Homo sapiens: one gene and its partners. The protein of the gene in region 1 interacts with the protein of each later gene in a pairwise test. Each region holds a gene or a part of one and is shown in the gene's direction. Other genes may lie near its edges.

Region 1 (7,024 bases):
GCAGGACATGCCTGTAATCCCAGGTACTTGGTAGGCTGAAGCAGGAGAATCACTTGAACCTAGGAGGCAGAGGTTGCAGTGAGCCGAGATTGTGCCACTGTACCCCAGCCTGGGCAACAGAGTGAGACTCCGTTTAAAAAACAAAACAAACAAACAAACAGAAAAAAGAAATAGGATCGTGAAAGTGTGATTACCAAGGATGAGGCATGTCTTAGGTAAGAACTGTTTGGAAGTGATGACAGATTAGCTCTATTAAATAAAGAAGGAAGAACCAATGGAGAACTCTTTACAGAGCAATGTATTCTAAGCTAAACACTAGGGATTTTAAGCTTGAAAGACTAGTATAATGGAGACACTCCTAACAAAGTTAAAGACTGCAGGAAACAATTAAGCACATATTTACCGAATGTCTGTTTGGACTAGGTACTGTTTTAGGCACTGTGAATGCAACAGCGAACAAAACACAGGGGTTGCTGCTCTCATGTAGGTTCTGGTCCACTGAGACAGATAGTAAATTAAAAATCAACAAACCAGCCTGGGCAACATAGTGAGACCCCCATCTCTATAAAAAATACAAAAATTAGCCAGGCAGGTGTGTGTAGTCCTAGCTACTTGAGAGGCTAAAGTGGGAGGATTGCTTGAGCCCAGGAGATCGAGGCTGCAGTGAACCACGATCATACCACTGCACTCCAGCCTGGGCGACACAGTGAGACCCTATCTCCAAAAAAAAAAAAAAAAATCAACAAACACCTACAAGATGTAGGTGGTAATAAATTCTGTTCAAACAACAACAACAATAAAAGCAGAGAAAAGGAATAGTGAAATAAGTGGGGATTGTGCTGTTTTCTGTAGACTTGTCAGAGAAGGTTTTTCAGATAGGTGACATTTACAGGAGAAATCTGAATGAAAAGAGCAAGCCATAAGCTATCAGGGATAACAGCATTCAGGCAGAGGGTCTTAAAGTGAGAATGTACTTATCATGGTGGAGATGTGGTTGTCAAGGAGGAGATGAAATAAAATGCTTATAAGATTATATTATGTCAGAACTTGTAGGCCATTATAAGAATTTCGAATTGTATTCTGAGATGGAAAGTCATTGGAGAATTTTGAACAGAAGCGAGATATAATCTGACTTGAATTTTAAAATAGTCACTCTGGCTACTGTGAGAAAGTTCCACAATGGGGCTGGGGTAGCCATAGGAGTAAAAGGTAGAGGCAACGAAACCATTTTAGGAGCAATAATAATAAGCAATAATCCAGGCAAGAGATATTGGTGACTTGGACTAGAATAGTAGCAGTGGGAGTGGTAAAATGTGATTGGATTCTGGATATATTTTGGAGCTAGAGCTTGACAGGGTTTGTTTTTATATAGAATGTGGAATATGAGAGAAAGTAAGTTAAGGATTATGCCGAAGTATTTGGTCTGAACATCAGATAGAGTGGATTTGTCATTCATAGAGATGGTAAAGACTGGGAGAGAAGTGGGTTTGGGGTGGAAAGACAGGAATCAAAACTTAGGGTTTGGGCCAGGCACGGTGGCTCAAGCCTGCAATCCTAGCACTTTGGGAGGCCAATGTGGGCAGATCACCTGAGGTCAGGAGTTCAAGACCAGCCTGGCCAACATGATGAAAGCCTGTCTCTACTAAAAATACAAAAATTAGCTGGGTGTGGTGGCAGGCACCTATAATCCCAGCTACTCAGGAGGCTGAGGCAGGAGAATCGCTTGAACCCAGGAGTCGGAAGTTGCAGTGAACCAAGATCTTGCCACTGCACTCCAGCCTGGACGACAGAGTGAGACTCTGCCTCAAAAAAACAAAAAAAACAGGGTTTGGACATGTTAATTTTGAGATTCCTATTAGAATCCAAGCAGAAAAGTTGAGCAAACAACTAGATATAATAAACTGGAATTCAGTGGAAGGGTCTGTGCTAGAACTACAGAATTGGGGCTTTTCAGAATACGCATAGTATTTAAAGCCACGAGATAGGATGAGATCATGAAGGGAGTAATGAGCAGTAGAAACAGAGTAGCTAGGGAGGTACAAAGAATGGGATTCTTAGATGCAGACAAAAGTAATTTGGTTTTAAATGTGCTGAATTTGTATTGCCAACCAGTTCTTTCTCTGAAAGCACTGCAGGGGCATATAATGGAGTTTACAGCTTGATTTCTGAGGCCTGACCAGAGATCCCAGAATAGAAGGCACAGCTCGCAGTACTGGCCTTTTCCCCCGGCTTTCTTTTTTCAAAATATGAGATATCAAAACACCGTTTTCTATACATCTGAGATAGCATTTTGCTGACTCTCGCTTTTATTCTGAAGACTGAGGCTACAAAATGAAAATGTATCAGGGAAATAGAGGCAGTATATGGTGATTTCTTAGTTATAAAATTTAACCTTTGAAGAGAATGGGGGAGTAATTTGAGAACCTGTTGTATGCCAATCCCTGTGCAAGGTGGTTTATACAAATGTTATTTATAATCTCAGAGAGAGTAAGTAACTAGCCCAAGGTCACAGAGCTACTAGACTAAGAGAGAGAGTAAGTAATCCATGTGATTCCAAATCCCTGCTTTTTACAATACCTTGCTGAAGAAACCTGTTATTTTTAAATGCAAGAGGAAATAAGCCCATGGAAGAATGGGAGCCACCCAGTGGCTGAAATTGAATAAATGAGTTAACTGAGGGAGCAAGGGTCAGAGAGAAGCCAAAAGTGATGGGATTGAAGGCAAAAGTAGAGACGTAAGCCTTGAAAAAGAGAAGACATCATCCTAAGATAGAAGAAATGGAGAGGAGTATGAGGGTGGAGATAGATAAAATGAAGAGTAGATGATTTTTGAGATGATTGTGATCTTGGATAAATAGAAAATAAGATAATCTTCCCAGAGAGAAGTGGGACGGGCACCTCAGAAGAGCAGAGACTATTGGGAACAGCTTAGGGAATGAATATGGAAGAGATTTCTCTCCTTCCCTTCTTTTCCCTTTCTTTCTCCTCATTTGTTCCCTTCAACCTTTTTTTTTTTTTTTTTTGGAGCTACAGTGTCTCTGTCACCCAGGCTGGAGTTCAGTAGTGTAATCATAGTTCACTATAACCTTGAACTGGGCTCAAGCAGTCCTCCTGCCTTAGTCCCCTGAGTAGTTAGGACTACAGATGTGCACCACCATGCCCAGATCATTTTTAATTTTTTTGGAGAGATGGGGTCTTGCTATATTGCCTAGGCTGGTCTCAAACTCCTGGCCTCAAGCAATCCTCCCACCATGGCATCCCAAGGGTGCCTTTTTTTTTTTTTTTTTATCATTTCTCTACATTATTTACCTTTACATATCCCCTTTCCTTTTCCTCTTTCTCTCTTAATGTTTTATTTTACCCTAAGTTCTATCTTATTTCCTCCTTTCTGCCTCTTTTCACCTTTTTCTTCTCTCCTTTGTTTTGTCTTTCTCCCTTTCCTTTCTCCACTTCTTTAAGCATAAGATAAAGAGGTAACAGTGGCACAACCAACATACTTTAGCGGTAACAACAGGAGAAATTACATCTGGGTGGAGAAGGGAAGATTCCCCAGAGGAGGCGACATTTATATTGGCCTTGAAGAATGGGTAGGGTTATGGCAGGCTTATATCTGGGAAAAAGGTCATTTCAGGGTTCAGCCACTGCCACAAATAGTATACTTTTTGTTTTCTGTTATCAGAGTGAGTCTGTCAGCTACATCTCATTTTCCTCAGGTCTCAGTCCACACTGGGGAACAGGAAATGTTCTTGCAGGAGACGGTACGTCTACGAAAAGAAGGAGAACCCAGTATGTCCCTCCAGTCCATGAAAGCCCAGCCAAAGTATGAATCTCCAGAACTTGAATCCCAACAGGAGCAAGGTAAAGAAGAAAGACCCATCTTGGGAGGAAGGGGAAGATGGGTAACATAGGACATTGGGGCTTTTTTGTACTTGCTACTGTTTCTGATCATTAAAGTCAAAAAGGCCGTCTCAGAATCTGATGGCTCATATATAGACTCTCAGACAGCCTAGTTTGTCACTCTTCAACCCTTACTTTTTTGTATATTCATATTCTTCTAAATTCTGGCTTTACCACTTAATTTAGTCCTTCTGATATTTATCTCTCTTTATACTGACCTCCTTGCTATTTTTAGCCTTTATCCTATCAGACAATACCTCTATCTTCCACTTGCACTATATCCTTTCTGCTTCACTAAATAAGCCTTTGCTCCATTATGTCTGCAACTAACTTTCAGATGGTTCAAGAAAAAAAAAATTTGTATACTTACAAAGAAAAGGAGTAACAGGCTGGGTGCGGTGGCTCACGCCTATAATCCCAACACTTTGGGAGGCCAAGGTGGGTGGATCACGAGGTCAGGAGTTCGAGACCAGCCTGACCAACATGGTGAAACCCCGTGTCTACTAAAAATACAAAAATTAGCTGGGCATGGTGGCGCGTGCCTGTAATCCCAGCTACTCAGGAGGCTGAGGCAGGAGAATCGCTTGAACCTAGGAGGCGGAGGTTGCAGTGAGCTGACATCACCCCACTGCACTCCAGCCTGAGCAACAGAGCAAGACTGTCTCAAAAAAAAAAAAAAGAAAAAGAAAAAATAATAAAACAAATGTTGCAAAATATTAAAAGTTGGTGAATGTGTGAAAGATCCGCTACCTTATTTCTACTTTCTCTGCATCCTTTTCATTTTCATTTAATTTTTTAAGTAGGTAAAAATGTACATGGCTCAAAAACAAAAATTTTTTAAGTTATTTAATGAAAAGTTTCTATTCTACTCGATTTTCCCAGCCACCTAGTCTCTTCCTCCTACTCTGAAATAGGTTGTAACTGTTACTAATTTTTCGTGTGTCCTTCCAGATATTTTTTTGATGCATATGTTTTCCATATTGAAACAAATATATTTTGCTCTCTTTATCACTAAGATGGTAGACTCTTGCATTTTTTATTTCTAAACAGCTGCTTAATATTAAAATGTATGGATACATTTTAAAGGTAGAAAGAGGTAACATTTATGATCCCTTCTTAGTTTTAGATGTTGAGACTGGAAATGAGTATGGGAATTTAAAGCAAGAAGTTTCTGAAGAAATGGAACCACATGGGAAGACATCCAGTAAATTTGAAAATGATATGTCCAAGTCTGCTAGGTGTGGAGAAACTCGTGAACCTGAAGAAATAACAGAAGAGCCCTCTGCTTGCTCCAGAGAAGATAAACAACCTACCTGTGATGAAAATGGAGTAAGCCTGACTGAGAACTCTGACCATACTGAACATCAGAGAATCTGTCCAGGAGAAGAATCTTACGGATGTGATGACTGTGGAAAAGCTTTTAGTCAGCACTCACACCTCATAGAACATCAGAGGATCCATACTGGAGATAGACCCTACAAATGCGAAGAATGTGGAAAAGCTTTCCGTGGGAGAACTGTGCTTATTCGACACAAAATAATACACACTGGAGAGAAACCGTATAAGTGTAATGAATGTGGCAAAGCCTTTGGCCGGTGGTCAGCTCTTAACCAACATCAGAGACTTCACACAGGAGAAAAACACTATCACTGTAATGACTGTGGCAAAGCCTTTAGTCAGAAAGCAGGCCTCTTTCACCATATCAAGATCCACACAAGAGACAAACCTTATCAGTGCACTCAGTGTAATAAAAGTTTTAGTCGGCGTTCCATACTTACTCAGCATCAAGGAGTTCATACCGGCGCCAAGCCGTATGAGTGCAACGAGTGTGGAAAAGCCTTTGTTTATAACTCATCCCTTGTTTCCCATCAGGAAATCCACCACAAAGAAAAATGCTATCAGTGTAAGGAATGTGGGAAATCCTTCAGTCAGAGTGGCCTTATTCAGCATCAGAGAATTCACACTGGGGAAAAACCCTACAAATGTGACGTATGTGAAAAAGCCTTTATTCAAAGGACAAGTCTTACAGAACATCAGCGAATTCACACTGGAGAAAGACCCTATAAATGTGATAAGTGTGGGAAGGCGTTTACTCAAAGATCAGTCCTCACGGAACATCAGAGAATCCACACTGGAGAGAGGCCCTACAAGTGTGATGAGTGTGGGAATGCCTTCCGAGGAATCACCAGCCTCATTCAGCATCAGAGAATCCACACTGGGGAGAAGCCCTACCAATGTGATGAGTGTGGAAAAGCCTTCAGACAGAGGTCAGATCTTAGTAAACACCAGAGAATCCATAATAGACGTGGTACCTATGTATGTAAAGAGTGTGGGAAATCATTCAGGCAGAACTCAGCTCTTACTCAACATCAGACTATCCACAAAGGAGAAAAATCTGTTTCTGTGTGATGACTACAGGGAAGTTATCTCACAGAGTTCAGGCCGGTGAGAAATACTATTTAGCTTTACAATTATTGGGGCAAAACTTCAGTCACCATTGTTATAAGGAAACCTCAGATATTTAATAAGAATTCACTGTGTGCTGCCCATTGTACTACGTGCTGTGGAGAACAAGAAGATAACCCCAAACTCTTTTCTCAGAGAGTTTGTAGCCTAGTTTGGGATAGATAAGATCCACATATTTAGTCATATAAGACTACAGGAGAGTAGAATTGATGCACCAGATGGTGTCGAATGAAAGTGGTACTTTGTAACAGACTATAAGTGCTGTAAATTCTAAAGGACAGGTTACTTTTGCCTGGAGTGGTCAAGAAAGATTTTATTTAAAATAAGGATTTGACGGGCAGACTTAGCAGTCAAAAGGGAGAAAGCGGGTAAAACAAATGTAAGCCATCATAAGAGTGCATGTGGTTTGGAAGCATCAGGGAAAAGACTAGCCAACCTGAAGTAAAAGGTTCGTGCAAATTGGGCAATCAATAGCATTAAGTTGGAAACAGCTTGGGGACAGACACATAAGAGGGCCAGAGTGTGAATAATTTCATCTAATACTTTATAGCACTTGGACATTTACAGAGCACTTTTCTCAATTCCTAAAATACCTTGGTAAATCAAAAGCATTCTCCATTTTAAAAATGAGAATACTCTTGCCTATGGAGATGGCAACATAG
Region 2 (7,781 bases), on another chromosome or scaffold:
AATAGTAAGCCAGAGGGGATTCCTGATTTCAACTCCAGTGCCAGTCAGTATAGCTTCATTTTTATATATAGTCAAGGCTCTGGTATAGTATTTTACCTAAAAAGCCTCTATTACTTACGACCACTGCTAAAAAGGATGCCAAAAAATATAAAGGGCAGCCCCTACCTTCAAGTCACTAAAATTTAATTGGGAAAACAAATATAAACTCATAAAAAATGAATCAGCAAAAATAATAATTATCAACACAAGTATAAACAGCAAAGGCAAAAATAAAAGAATCTGAGAAGACCAATTCTGAACTCATAAGAAAGATGATTACTATGGGCTGAGCAATGTGAAAAAAAGAAAAGAAACTTTGAATAGGAAAATAGCATGCCATCTGCCAGTGTCTCAGTGAGGACAGCCTACTTTTTGCTGTCCTTGTGAATAAACCCTGGCCTGATACCTACATGGAACTCAGAATCCACTTGTACCTTCTTAACTTGGATCATATCCTATACTGGCAATTACTTGGCAATTGTTCTCTTGTTCCTCCCTCTTTGGCCCATGGATCCTATTGATAATTAATTACCTCGAACAGGTCATTAAATGGTTGTGGCTAATTCCTAAAGCTGAGGACAATAATACAGATAGTCACTTGTGATAACCAGCTATTGTGACTAGCTTCCTTCCCACAGGGCTACCTAGAAAACACAACTGAGCAAATATAAGTATCTCCTTTCTTGCTGAGCCCGAATGTGGCCATAGAATTCTTCTTGATTAGTACCAACTGAATGGAGTTGGAGCTTAAGACAAAACTGTGATCTGTATTTAGCTTCTCACATCTGGCTGGATCCCCTTTCCTAACTGAACTATCCCTCTGGCCTTGACCAGTGTCTATCTAAGCTTATGATATACCACTGGCCACCCTTTTTTGTGTTTAGCTGGAACACAGCTTTCAATCACGGATGTGCTGGGAGACAGGATGACAAAAATGGTTTTAAGGAAAGGGGGAGTAGATGATGAAGGACTAAAAAGGGCCAAGCACCTGGCATACTTACAAAAGCATGGCCCCATCATAGACCTAGTGATCACAATTTCTGAGCTGGGGTCTAGGAATCTGCATTTTAAGTACTTGCAGTGTATTTTAAAAAAATTATTATAGAACATTTTAAATTATAAAATAGTAAAGAGAATGTATTCATCATTAATCTATAACCAATCTTGTTTCATCTATATCCTTACCCATTCTTCCTACTCCTCACCCCAGTGGATTATTCTGAAGCATAACGTTTCATCTGTAAATATTTTAGTACATATCTCTGAAAGGTAAGGACTTGAAGAAAATGTTGCCATAAACCAATACTTAAAAAAAATTCCTTGTTTTCATCAAATCTCCAGTTAATGTTCAAATCTCTCCAGTTGTCCCAAATTTAAAAATATTTAAGTCACGATCCAAATAAGATCTCACACATTGTCTTTGGTTGGTACGTCTCTTTACTCTTAAGGTCCAGACACCCGGATAGATAAGTCGAGGCCTCCTGAGTATAGAGCAGCCAGTGATTGACAGTCAGACTAGAAGATCCCTTGGCTCTGAGCAGTAGCACCATTTCTGACTGCTTCAGAGTAGAAGACTCTGAGCTCTGCTAAACCAAAGCAAATTTTTAAAAAGTTGGTGAGATCTTTAACAACTGGGTGAGAGAACTACAAATGCGTTGTTGAAAAAAGGGCACAAAAGTGTTCTAGAAATGGCATAGGACCACCAAAGGCTGTGGATGGTTTGCTGACTATGTCTTGGTCGTGGAGTTGAGAGCAATCTTTAAAGCATTAATTTGGGCTATTGATCACATCTTGCTCCCTTTATGTAAGCAGTGTGTGGTGTATGTGGAATGTGGAAATAGCCAGCACAGTGCCTGGCTCATGACAACCAAGATTCTTCCAAAGACTATACTGACAATTTCCTTGATACACTAGAACCTCAAACAGATGCAAATCTTCAAAAGATAAAGGCCTTTGCAAATGACCGACTTTCCTTCTATTTACTTAATCATAATAACTGTGATAGTTTCATTTATTAATGGCTTACTAAGGACCAGGCCATGTGTCTAGCAACTGATAGTTATTTGTTGAATGCATGAACAAGAATATTGAATGCTTTACATTTAATCCTCAGAGCATCTGCCACTATTTTGCCATGAAGTTTATTACTATCTCTGACAAAACAGTAGTAAGAACTAGGACTTATTCTTACTGTGAATTCTTAATCTGTTCTAAGTAACTCTGTATATTATTATCTCGTTCATCAGCACAACAGCTGTGTAAGTTAAGTACTATTATCCCCATTTTATGCAGGCCCAGAGTTTCAGTAACTTGGATAAGAACACAGATTATAACTGATGGTACTTGACTGAAACTTGAGCAGCCTAACTGGTTAACAGTAGTCCTGGAAGGGGAAGAGGCCAGTATCAACACTCCCATGTATAAGTTCTTGGCAAGAATAAGTTCAAAAAGGCAGGTTTAGAGGTCATGTCTAGCACAGACCATCATCAACATTGCCCCTCTCTTTCTCAAGAGTAAGGACAATGCTGCTGCTGAGGCAGGAATCAAGTTACATAAAGAGACCTCAGAAATCAATGGGATGGTTTTTTGGGTACATTGACTGGTTTAGCGCCTCTGTTCATTCGTCAAACATTTATTAAGCACCTGCTACGTGCAAAACACTGTTAACAGTGCACTACTGTGCACGCTCATTCTCAGAACAACAATCCTGCGATTCCTGGAGAGGGATGGTAGAAGAGGAGTGCTGCCTTGTTAACGAGGTTCTCCCAACTTCTTTTTTTCCTCGGGAATTGTTCTCTTTAATGTGGCACCAGCGGCAACCTTCATTCTTAGGTCGCACAAATCTGAGAAGGAAGAGAAAAACATTGCACGCAGGGCGAGACTTATATCTGGGAAGATGCGTCAGGAACTTGGGAGCACTTGGGATTCAGTCCCCTAAGGTGGTTCATGTACAGGCTGGTTTTCTAAGTGGAGAACAGATAATAGAATTTGCAGAGCCAGGAGCTCTGACTCCTGTGGCTGGGCTGACCTTAGGCTCCAGCCCGCAACCCCAGTAGGTTTCTGTGCAAAAATCTTTTGAGATGAATGCATACTTTGTCTTCTAACAATGCATTCGTGACAGCTGTCTATCCAATCGGTCCGCCTCCGTTCAGAGCAGTTCGTGCCACAGAAGCATCTCCTGCGCTATAGTTATGCAACCTCACTCGCAGCGGGAGTTATTTCCTCCGTTCTGGCTGCGCCAGATTCATGTAACACGCCTACCCTGGGCTTCAATGGAAGTCGTTCTCCATTAACAATCACTCCAGCTTTCCGAGATGAATGCCCTGATAGCATACCCCTTGCGCAGTAAGAATCCAGGCAGCGAGGCGAGGTGTTAAAACACACATACATTCTCATATTCTCTCTCTCTCTCTCTCACACACACACACACACACACACACACACACATACACTTCGTGCATGCAGCTAGGGGACTGCAGCAGTGCAACCAGGGGGACAGCAGGAGGAGCTCTCTTTGCAGTCCCTGCTTCTAACCCCCACTAACTAAAGATGAACTCATGCCAGTTCCATTCTTTGCTCTGCAAAGAAAACACACACACACACACACACACACACACACACACACACACACACACGGCAGAAGAGAGTAGCCTCCAGATTTCCCCTCTGAGCACACTGTCTTTCTAGCCTCTTCGTTCAAGCAACCCGGATATTCCAAGCAGAGTAACGGGGAGTAACGCGCCACAACAATGCAACCTCCCTAGCAGCTCCCCTCGCAGCTCCCACCCCCGCCCCCTTTCGCGGCGTGCCAAGAGTTTGGAGCGCGCGCACGCACACCGAGCACGGTGCAGGGAGGATATCCCTCCGCCTCCCTCCCCCTTTCTCCGCTAAGTGGCTCGACAACGATTTGGGAAATGAAGGGAGGAGGGAACTACTTTCCTGAAACTTGCTATGCTGCACATGACTTCGAGTTGCAGTGATTCGCCCGGAGGCCGCGGCTTTTAGTCCTACCCACACACCCTCACAGCCTGGGCACCCCGCTCGGCAGCCCCACCCCGCGCCCGCTCTGGCCTCCGGGGAAAGCGGGCGGCCGGGAGAAGTCGCGAGGGACTACTTCGCCTCCTTCTCTCGCGGGCGCCCCCGGTTCGGGCAGCGGCTGCGGCGGCGGAAGGAGCGGGCGGCGTGAGCGCTTCCGCCGCCCCCCTCGCGGCTCCCCTCTCTCGGGCGTGAGGAGCTGGCCCGCTGAGCTGCTGGTGGGCACTGGCTGGCGGGGAACCTGCAGCCGCTCTTGTCCTCTCCCGCCGCTTCTCGGGATCCTGCCCCCCGGACCCGGGCCCGCCCGCTCTTCTCCGGCCGGGTGGGAACGATCGGTTTGCCTGCCCCTCGCCTCACACGCTCCCCGCCGCCCCCTCCACCCCCCTGAGGAGGAGTCCCGGCTGGAGCGTGTCTGGAGGAATCCGCCGCCGCGGGGCCCCTAGCCCTGCTCTGCCGGCGCCTGAGGACCGACCCAGACGCCGCCGGGGGTTGAGGGGCAGCCGGCGGCGAGGCGGGAGATGGTGGGGTGGGCTCCGGCAGGACCGCGCCGCCGCTGCCCGGAGCCTGGGCTCGGCACCCCCCCGCCGGCCCCCACCGAGCGGAGCTCTGCTTCCTCCTCGCCGCATCCCTGAGGGAAGCGCCGCCTCTGCTCCCGGGTTCTCCGCCCGCCGACTCCTTCCTGGCCGGACCCCGCTGCGCTCCACCCCAGTGGCTGGAGGAGCAGCTCTCCAGTCAGCCTTTGCAGCCCCTCTCTTTTTCCCTTTCCACCGGGCCTCCTCGGATCCCTTGGCTGGGCACTGAGGCGGGGGAAGAGGCTGGGGTCGCCACGGCGGAGGTTGCTGCCGCCACCCCCCTGCGGGGGTGGCCGGGGTTCCCGGCTGGGGGGGTACCGTTCTGGGTGAGGCATCCACCATGGTGAGGCCCCTGTGCCGCTGCCCCCGCGCCCCCCCGGCCGCCGCTGCCTCCTGCCCCTCGGTGCTGCTGTTGCTCCCCCGCCTGCTGTTGCTCCTCCATCTCCAGATCGGATCACGGTGAGGGAAAGATGAGCGAGGAGACGGCGACTTCTGACAACGAGTAAGCGCCTCATTGATCTCGATTGCTAATCCCCCTCCCCCTATCCGCCCTCGGCTCTCCCCCAGACCCATCCGAAACTTGGGTGCCGGAAAGCTTGCGACCCTGGAGAGTTCGGTGCATCTTCTGGAGATAGCTGATTTCTTTAGCCATTTTTAGTGGCAGCACCCCTCCCCATCCTCCCACATTTAGCTGCTTTCTTTTGGGGTAGGGGATTAAGTGTTGGGAGAGGATGGCAATTGTACGTCTATGAGAGGGAATAATGTGGATGGATGGAAGTGGAGTAGAAACTACCCCTTTGCCTGTGAGACCCCTGTCCCGTCCTTTTTCACTCACATACCAGTCACCATACCTTCAGTATCCATCCTACTTCCTTTATAGCTGTTTCACTTGGAAACTAATGTGTGGGAGCACCTCCTGCAGCAAACTGCTCTTGAATCTTAATTCGATGAGTCAGTGACTCTTAAATACCGATTAAGCCTTCACCCTCTCCCCCCTCCCCCTTTTAAACTTATGACCTGTAAGATTCTTGTAAAAAATAGGGTTAGGGAAACATTTTTAGAATTTAATAGGATTAAGGACACCTGGAGTGTGGGCGATGTTGAGCTAGAGTTTACCTTTGTGAATATTGGACGTGTCTTCAGGAACGGAGAAGAATTTTGAATGCTAATTTTTACCTTTCAGCTATGTGAAAACACATGATTTACGTTGATGTAACCGAATTTACATTGCTGAATATGTTGGTGATTTCATTAACTTTTAGAGCATTCCGGTTTAAGTTTTAGCTTATTTGGGCTTTCTCCTTGCTTTCCAAACGAAATACTTCGTCTTTTAAATGTTTTGCTTTAACGTGACAGCTGCGTGGAGAAATAATGGTTGGCAACACTTTTCTATTGAGAAGGGATTTAATTCCAAGCAGAATATTAGCATCCGTTTTCTTGTAATTAAGTTCAACTTTTGTTTATCTTCGGAGGGTTGGAAAGAGTTAAGTGAGTTAGGACTTAGTCATTTGGATGCATTCCTTTAAATACAGTGCATTACTAAAGTCAGACCTTTTTGAAATAACTTTTTAAAGTCTGTACCGAGTCCTGTTTAACGTAAAATAGCTAGAGAAAGGCCAAACAACATTTCCTCCTCCCTTACTCCCTCCCCACCCCAAAACACACGCTTCTGCTGAGCGGGTGTAGAAGGAGGTACATTGCTGCAGTGTCAGTGCAGTGTAGAAGCAGAAGTGGCAGCCATGTTCTGTCTCTTTTTGTGAATCGCCCTCATTTGCATAGCACACTCTTCATTCATAAAAAAAATAATTAAACATCCATCACCTTGGACATCTTGAAAGGATTTCCCAAGAAAAAAAATTCGCGGCTTATTTGTCTGTGTGTAGATTTTTGAGTTCAGAAGGTAAGAAGAATGTGAAATTTTAGGTTAAATTTAAAAACATACGCACACACAAACAACTACCCCTGTTCTGAGAATGTTGACACAGTTATGTGGGAAATATCAGTTCGGGGAGGTGCTGGGATCACGTGATCGCCTCCATTCATAAAATACCTGGCTGTCCATTCAGAGTGCAGTACAGTCTCTCCCTGCCTTCTGCAGATTAGACCTACTTTGAGGGAGATCAAGAAGTCTATCTCAGATAATGGTTATTTAGGAGAAGAACTGCTAAAAATGCTGAACCGAATGACGGTAACTTTTATTGGTATCTTTCAAAAAGTTTGGATTAAAAATGTTAAGTTTTCTTTTAGAGATGGGAAAAGACTTCTTACCAGTTTAATTTTTTTCTTAAAGCAGTGAATATCTCCTTGTTTCCTTCTGGTTGCAGCTAATAAAAAAAGCAGATGATGGAATGTGAATTAACACAAGTAAAATATATTTTTTCTAAATGGCCATTTTTTTAAATACTTGCCATAAATAAATTGAGACAACAGGTTTTTTTGTATAGTGATAGTGCGTTCCACTGCTATTACAGTAAATTGAGAAAATACTCCCAGTGATTTAATCCCCAAGATGTTGATATTTGAAACACCGATGGCAATCTTCAGTGAGAGGATTGCTTTAAATATTTTTTTTTCATCTAAATGTACTTAGTATGGGACAACTTGGAAATTATCTCACTCACCCAGACTTTTAAAATCGTTTTTTCACAAATTTATCCTGCTTTATTAATAAATTATTCCCTAGGAGCTTTGTAATACTTTTTAAGTTTGGGCAGGGCGATAATAATATTTAGCATAATATTTTGGTAAACTCTTCATGGGAACAAAATCTTGGGGGTTTTACTTTAAAAAACTCTATTATATTAGAAAATAATGTGTTCATCTGATAATCAGTTTTACTAGAGCCAGCATTGTTTGCTTGTGCATTAGATAAACCACAGAGTGAACTTATTTGGAATGTAGCTTTTAATATAGTAATTTATGTCTCATCTTTAATAGGTGAACCGTTTTGAAATGGAAATTTATTATTTATAGTCATTATGAAGAAAGATACGTATCATGGCAGAAGCCATTAAGGCCTTAGCACAGTTTAAAACTGCCCTGTAACATGGATTTTATTTGGGCCTTACATTTTTTTCCCTTTTCTCTTTTTTAAAGCCATTGCTCATAGGGATTTAATTACAGTAGGGACTATTT
Region 3 (7,024 bases), on another chromosome or scaffold:
TACAGGCATGATCTGAACTTGTTTGAGAAGATCTGGCCCCAGAATCTCTGGGAAGCTGGCCCTATACCTGCCTTTGAGATTCCCTGGAGTCATCCTGGAATTTAGAATGACTGCTCATGTACATGACAAGTTCATGACTGACCTCAGAGGTTGCCTTTATGGCCCAGGCCATCTCAGGAGACCTCTGTCTGGGACCTTCCTTGTCTAAAACAAAACCAGAATAGTTTAGTCCCTGCCTTTAATCTGTGTTTGTTAATCAACAGTCATCTACCCCTTGAGATCTGTGTGTGCTCAGCCCAAGCAGTGGGAACTGTAGGGGATGATGTGGGTGTGAGGTGTCGGTGCCAGGGACCCTGATGTCTTGTGGCGTCCAAGGAACTGTGTGTCACTGAGAGTGATCGGCCCCCACAGCAGTGTTCTTTCTACCTTCATGTTCCTTGTAATAATGCATCAGCAAGCTCGATCTGGGCCGTGAAGGGATGGATTGACACCATGAAGAGCCGCCACAAAGCTGCAGACAGGGGGACAGCAAGGCTGGCTTGTTCTAGGGCTGACCTGGACCCGAAGAAACTGGGGATAAAAAGAGAAAGGTCAAGGCAGTGCCCTTGGCGTCCTGTGGGCAGCCCAGTTTGCTCTTTTCTGGAGTATTTTCCAGAGGTGGAGAACAAGCAATTTTAGTTCTGTCAAGTTTAATTTACAGTATTCCAGGCCTAAGTGATCATTCCACTACTCTTGAGGAAAGGAGACTGACCCTGGCAAACACTGTGCTCACACATGCAAACCACCTATCCCGATCACTAACTGTCCTGCTGTTTGCTCATGCCAGCAAAAACCCGGGCAGCTGACTTGTTGGTGAATCCCCTGGATCCGCGGAATGCAGATAAAATTAGAGTAAAAATTGCTGACCTGGGAAATGCTTGTTGGGTGGTAAGTAGAGTTTTCTTTCTAAAACCTTTGGTCTTGATTCTGTGTGCGAAGACACTTTTTGAATGTCTGTGTTGCTCCGTGGTAATGCAGCCTGTTCCCTTCCAGCATAAACACTTCACGGAAGACATCCAGACGCGTCAGTACCGCTCCATAGAGGTTTTAATAGGAGCGGGGTACAGCACCCCTGCGGACATCTGGAGCACGGCGTGTATGGTAAGGACGGCTGTGCCCTTTGCTGCCATGGGAATTGGCTCGTTCCTTTCACACTCTGGATGGGGCTGAGTCTCTCTGAGGCATGCGACCTCAGTTTTTCTGACTGTAAGGGTCATCCACCGTGGGCTGGGTGAGGGGAAGGTTGCTGCCGCAGGCATCTTAAGAAGTGGAAGGATCCTCCTCAGGCGGGCCCTGGGTGTTTGGTGTGGTTGTGGGCTTGTGAGAGAGACATGGTCTCTTCTTAAGGCCCTGCACAGCCCACAGCCCCATGAATCAGACTCAGTTGTTGTGACACAGTGACTTCACTTGTGGTCCCTGAAAATGTGCAGGGTATAGGGAGCTTTTCCCTTCACTCACACTGTGGAGGAAGATGAGGTAGCATCTCCAGGGGAAGACTGCCTAAGGCGGGCAGGTGGGAGCCCCTCCAGGTAAGCCTCTGCCTGGTCAACCAGACATGCAGGGTTCCTCACCTTTCCAGACTGGAAGGGATTTCCCCAGATGCCAATGCATAATCTCTCTTCCCTTATAAAGCAAGAGCTAGCAGATATTCTGGCTTATTCTAGGATGTCTAGCCTCTTCTGAAACAGTGGCAGCAACGCCCACTCCCTCTGACAGAGTCTGTTCCCAGAGTGGTTGAGATGACGGCTTCCACAGGGCGGCAGAAGCCTCTTCTTCTATCTGTCAGGCCTGTTTTGCTGCTGGTTTTGTGCTGCACAGTTGCATTGTCTGTAAACTCCCCTGGCCCTGCCTGGCATCGTTTGGTCATTGACCCTGAACCTGTGAGTTGGTGAACACAAAGGGCCCTGCATTTGCGAGCCAGTTCCTGGTTCTCTTCCTCTGCCCTGTTTCCTGGCCCATTCAGCAGCTTTTTCTCAGTGGTATTTACTTAGGCGTTCCGTGTTGGGAAAGGTGGGTTGCTTGCTGTTGGGTTTCATGCTTTTCCTATTCCATACTGCTTTTTATCCATATTCTTCCAATATTTAAAAGAAAAGATTGTGTGCAAGGCTTAGCATTTTTCTTCTCACTGAAAAAAGGAATGCAGAATAAATATATTAATTTTCTGTTATTCAGAGGTTAATTTAACAATTTTCTTGAATTTACTGTGTTTTACCTCCTCTAATGCTCAAGTAAAAGCATTGTTGAGCAGATAGTGCCAGCTGATAGGAGAAAAAGAGGGTGCTTTCTGTCTTTCAGCTTTGACTCAGCATGATCTGAGTCAGCACATGGCCAGATAGGTCCTGAAACACCAGGCCTTTCTATTCCCTCGTTGCTCTTAAGGATAATACCAGACAATAACGTTTAAATTATTAAAGGTATTAAAGTTCTTCCATATCAAAAACCAAGTCCCTGCCTTAGCTAGGTATAGAAAAGAACGGTTAAAAGAACCGGTGGCCAATGATGGTCACTTTGAATTTAGAGAGTGCTGTGTGGAGAGGCATTTGACCCTCTCTGTGTGACCCCAGCAGGCAGACTGAGACGTGGGAGTTAGTGTAACGGGAGCTGCGGAGACACTGAGTGGGAGTCGGGGAGCAGGGGCCATTTCAGGATGTGGGGAGGTTAGACCACAATGGCCACTAGCAGCAGGGCTGCCCCGAATTAGGCGCTAAGTACTCTTTGAACTCTGAAATGCTGTGCTTCTAATTTGGGGTATTAAGTTTGGTGATATAACCAGAAAAATAGGACGCAGTCACGGATGTAGTGGGTTAATGGAGCTTTCAGCACAATTTTATACCAGGTTATCTGACCTGCCTTCCATTAGATGAACGTTTGTCCCTCCATACAATTTCCCTGTCCTGCTTACTTCTTGAAATGCTATTGCTGTGAACAGTGGCATAAATATCAATAACAGATTCCCAAGGAAAAGCCTTTCTGTCTTCTCACCTGCCCCCTTCCCAAGAATTAAGCATAAGCTCCCTCAGTGCTGTCAGGACGGCTTATGAGGTTTGCTTTTTCAGTTGGTTGTCATAAGGGAGGTTTTTTTTTTTTTGGAAAGGGGCAGGCCCTCATTCACTGCTTGCCCCACCCCCCAAAAGTCATGGCTTTAGAGGTTTCTTTTGTTCCTCCTAGAGAACCTAGGAGCAATGAGGCAGTTTTTCTTACCTCATCGTTCTGTTGTAGTGTAAAAATAGGACATTTAATATATTAAATTTGACCTCATAATACCAAGCTGTCATAAGGCCACAGATGGTTCTTGGTGGTAAAGCCTATATATAGTCTTTGAGGGTTTTGTTTGTTTGTTTGGAGACAAGGTCTTGCTCTGTTCCCCAAGCTGAAGTGCAGTGGCAGGACTATAGTTCACTGCAGACTCCACTTCCCAAGCTCAAGTGATCCTCCCACCTCAGCCTCTGGTGTAGCTGGGACTACAGGCACATGCCACCACGCCTGGCTAATTTTTGTATTTTTTGTAGAGATGGAGTTTGTCACGTTGTCTAGGCTGGTCTTGATCTCCTGAGCTCAAGTGATCCACCCGCCCTGGTCTCCCATAGTGCTGGGATTACAGGGATGTGACACTGTGCCCGGCTGTCTTTGAGATTTATAAATAGCATCAAATCTCACAGAGACTCTGTTGGGAATGAGAGCTGACGGGTGGTAGCCATTGGCTATTGTCAGGGAGGACAGCTTTAGGCTCTGCAGCTGGAGAAGCACAACAGAATGAGGGACCACAGCAAGGGTATGTTGGGTTTGGATCTGTTTTACTTTTCTTGAGTTTTACTTTTTTTTTGAGCTTTACACCTTCCAGTGTAAGTACATATAATCTGAAACTTCTTTGTGGCTGAAGCATTGGTTTCTCTGCATTTATGTATTAGAGTCTCTGATAGGACTTTTTATGAACTCCATGGTGAGTCCTGGTCAGTGCCATAGAAACAAGAAAAGCCATTCCAACAAACTTCACCAGACTTCTTCGGCACTGGTCACATTACAGAACAAATACGTGATCTTATTTGTTCAGAATCGGGATACTTCAGCATAGGAGAATGTTTTAGGAGAGAGGTAGTTGGTCTCCCAAGAATCTGGAAACAAGTAGGTCCAGGGAAGAGCCCTTTGAGGGGATTGAGCCAAGTAGAGAAGAATCCGGAGTTCCCAGGTATTAAAAATAATAATAAAGATTATACTTAGGCCCAGCGAGGTGATGCACACCTGTAATCCCAGCACTTTGGGAGGCCAAGGCAGGCAGATCACTTGAGGCCAGGAGTTTGAGACCAGCCTGGCCAACATGGCAAAACCCCATCTCTACTGAAAATACAAAAATTAGCTGGGCATGGTGGCACGTGCCTATAGTCCTAGCTACTCAGGTGGCTGAGGCAGGAGAATCGCTTGAACCCAGGAGGCAGAGGTTGTAGTGAGCCAAAATTGTGCCGCTGCACTCAGCCTGGGCAATAGAAGGTTATACTGGGAGTAACTGAGTTGAAGGCAGAGTTTTTTTCATTGTAATGTGCATTTGCCCTGTTGTACATGTTGTATTGTTAAGAGAATCTTGCCACTCTCCAAAGAATCAAAAATGGGTAGCATTACAGCCTTCATCTTCCTTGTTCCTTTAAAAAAAAAGAAAATTATTTGGCCGGGCTTGGTGGCTCACGCCTGTAATCCCAGCACTTTGGGAGGCCGAGGCAGGCGGGTCACGAGGTCAGGCTAACATGGTGAAATCCCGTCTCTACAAAAAATTAGCCGGGCGTGGTGGCGGGCGCCTGTAGTCCCAGCTACTCAGGAGGCTGAGGCAAGGAGAATGGTGTGAGCTTGCAGTGAGCTGAGATTGATTGTGCCACTGCACTCCAGCCTGGGTGACAGAGCGAGACTCCGTCTCAAAAAAAAATTATTTCATTGATTGGCTTCTATACATGTTTTCTTGGGAATATGTGGGTGCTAATCAAAATGATGATTTTTTTCAAAGAATACATACCTGACATATTTTGGCAGTAAGAAATATGTACAAAGCTGGGTGCAGTGTAGTGCGCCTGTAGTCCCAGCTTCTCTGGAGGCTGAGAGAGGATCACTGGAGCCCAAGAGGTTGAGTCCAGCCTGGACAACATAGCGAGGTCCCTTCTCTAAAAAATATGAAAGAAAAAGAAATATATGCAACCAGATTGAAGTCATTTTGAAAATTAATTAAAAGAGTTAGTTAGCATAGGGCTCAAGGCAGGGGTTGAAAAGCAGCTTGGAACTTGATCCAGGCTTTTCAAGTCCTCGTTGTCCCATTAGAGTTTTCAGATTTTTCTCTTAGCTTGTAAGATACTGAATTGATTGTTTCCCAGGCTAGAAGGACTCTCCTGGCCATTGAGTGTGTAATCTAGTTGTTCCACTTGGATTTGGGGCCAGTTATGAGGTTTTCCTGCCCTCATCTGGGATTGGCCCAACTGTCTTCTTTGTTTATTGGGTGGAAAGGAGAGGCCCTACATAAGGGCTTTCCTGGGTTTTCTGCTGGTGCCTTCGTGCATCCACAGTGCTGGGACCACCAGCTCACCATGCTGAGATGTGACATGTCCGTGTCTTGCTCAGACCTATGCCAGGTTCAGGGCAGGGATCCTGAGTTCATAAATTAATGCTTATCGCTCGGTCAGCTGGAAGCCATCTTGTCACCATCCTTCCTTCCTTCAAGTGATTGACAGGCAGTCTTTTTTTTTAAAAAAGGTGAAAAGATGTGGTCCTGGGCTGACTGCACTCACTCTTGGTTTGTTAAAGACAGTGCCAGGAGAGGTGGCCCCTCACCCAGGCAGGTGAGCCTTCCCTTAAAGGTGCCTTTCCAGCACTGTGTGGTCATTGAAAGAAAAAGAAGGTAGGTTGATGCAGTGAAGTTTCCCCAGTATTGGCTCCTTGGGGCGGGAATGGGGAGGGCAGTCACAGATCCACAGGCATCAGTGATTGGGCCTCTGAGCACCTTTTGGGACAGCAAGATCCGTTCAGAATAGAAGCAGCTATGAGAAAAACCAGAAATGGGATTTAGCTTATTCTTTTTTTCTCTTTTAAAACATTCTCTTTGATCAGCAGAGCAGTAGCAGTTGCCATTTTTGTATATTGTTACTAGCTTAAACTCATGTTTTTGAGGGTTTTTTTGTGAGCAAGGGAAATGTGTTCCCTACATGCTGGCATGCTGAGGGACAGCCAGTGGCCACCCAGGAAGCCAGTGCTCCGTGACATCCACAAAAGGGTCTGCAAGACCATCTGCTTCCTCTGGCCCTGGGGACAAAGAGGGTCTTTTTTGTTTCCAGGTTTTCCTTTGGTTGAATCAGAAATGAATGAAATGATGATGAAAATGGTTGATGAGATACTGAAAATAGTCCTTGGTTACTAAAACATGAAGGTCTTCGCCTAAAAGACGCAGCAGTGTCTGCTATACAGAGGCCAAGGCTATTATAGTGGTTGAGGCAGGTGCTGGAGTCAGACGGGCCTTGTTGAGTCCTGGGTTGAACTCTCGTTCTACCATTTATAGAGTGCATACCGCGCTCTGGCCAGGCCTGCATGCAGGTGCGGCTGACTCACTGACGTTTTGGTTTTGCTTCCTGCAAAATGAAGAGAATACATAGCTCTTATATCTTTCCTTAGAAATGTAAAAATACTTCTGAAACTTCTTTGAATGTGGAAGAAAGAAAAAAATTAGTATTGAGCACTTTCAGGAGGCTATTTTGTTTGATTCAGATCTTCATAAAGTGGCGGTCTCTTCTATAAGGAGAAAAAGCTGTTGACTTGGGGGCCAGTCTCTGAAGTGCTTAGCATGTCGTCTGTTGTATCCTAGGCATTTGAGCTGGCAACGGGAGATTATTTGTTTGAACCACATTCTGGGGAAGACTATTCCAGAGACGAAGGTGAGTATTGGTGCCTGCTGAATACCTCGGTCTAGGTCTTCTGCCAGCCCTGAACTTCTGTAGAGTACTGTATTTTTGTACTGAAA

The links. The genes of interacting proteins can lie anywhere in the genome.
Region 2: the proteins of ZSCAN12 (region 1) and SPRED1 interact in binary tests that used the Homo sapiens proteins (3 or more experiments, as listed by UniProt).
Region 3: the proteins of ZSCAN12 (region 1) and SRPK2 interact in binary tests that used the Homo sapiens proteins (3 or more experiments, as listed by UniProt).

What each region holds. Positions count from the first base shown.
Region 1 is NC_000006.12:28,389,735-28,396,758, reverse strand, and holds part of ZSCAN12 (zinc finger and SCAN domain-containing protein 12), read left to right. Parts: intron 1-3,678; coding exon of another isoform or gene 3,679-3,712; coding exon 3,713-3,857; intron 3,858-5,016; coding exon 5,017-6,305; 3' UTR 6,306-7,024. UniProt on the Homo sapiens protein: May be involved in transcriptional regulation.
Region 2 is NC_000015.10:38,248,070-38,255,850, forward strand, and holds the start of SPRED1 (sprouty-related, EVH1 domain-containing protein 1), read left to right. Parts: upstream 1-4,766; 5' UTR 4,767-5,116; coding exon 5,117-5,148; intron 5,149-6,715; exon of another isoform or gene 6,716-6,834; intron 6,835-7,781. UniProt on the Homo sapiens protein: Tyrosine kinase substrate that inhibits growth-factor-mediated activation of MAP kinase. Negatively regulates hematopoiesis of bone marrow.
Region 3 is NC_000007.14:105,126,907-105,133,930, reverse strand, and holds part of SRPK2 (SRSF protein kinase 2), read left to right. Parts: exon of another isoform or gene 1-826; coding exon 827-927; exon of another isoform or gene 928-1,032; coding exon 1,033-1,140; exon of another isoform or gene 1,141-2,164; intron 2,165-5,038; exon of another isoform or gene 5,039-5,145; intron 5,146-6,868; coding exon 6,869-6,938; intron 6,939-7,024. UniProt on the Homo sapiens protein: Serine/arginine-rich protein-specific kinase which specifically phosphorylates its substrates at serine residues located in regions rich in arginine/serine dipeptides, known as RS domains and is involved in the phosphorylation of SR splicing factors and the regulation of splicing.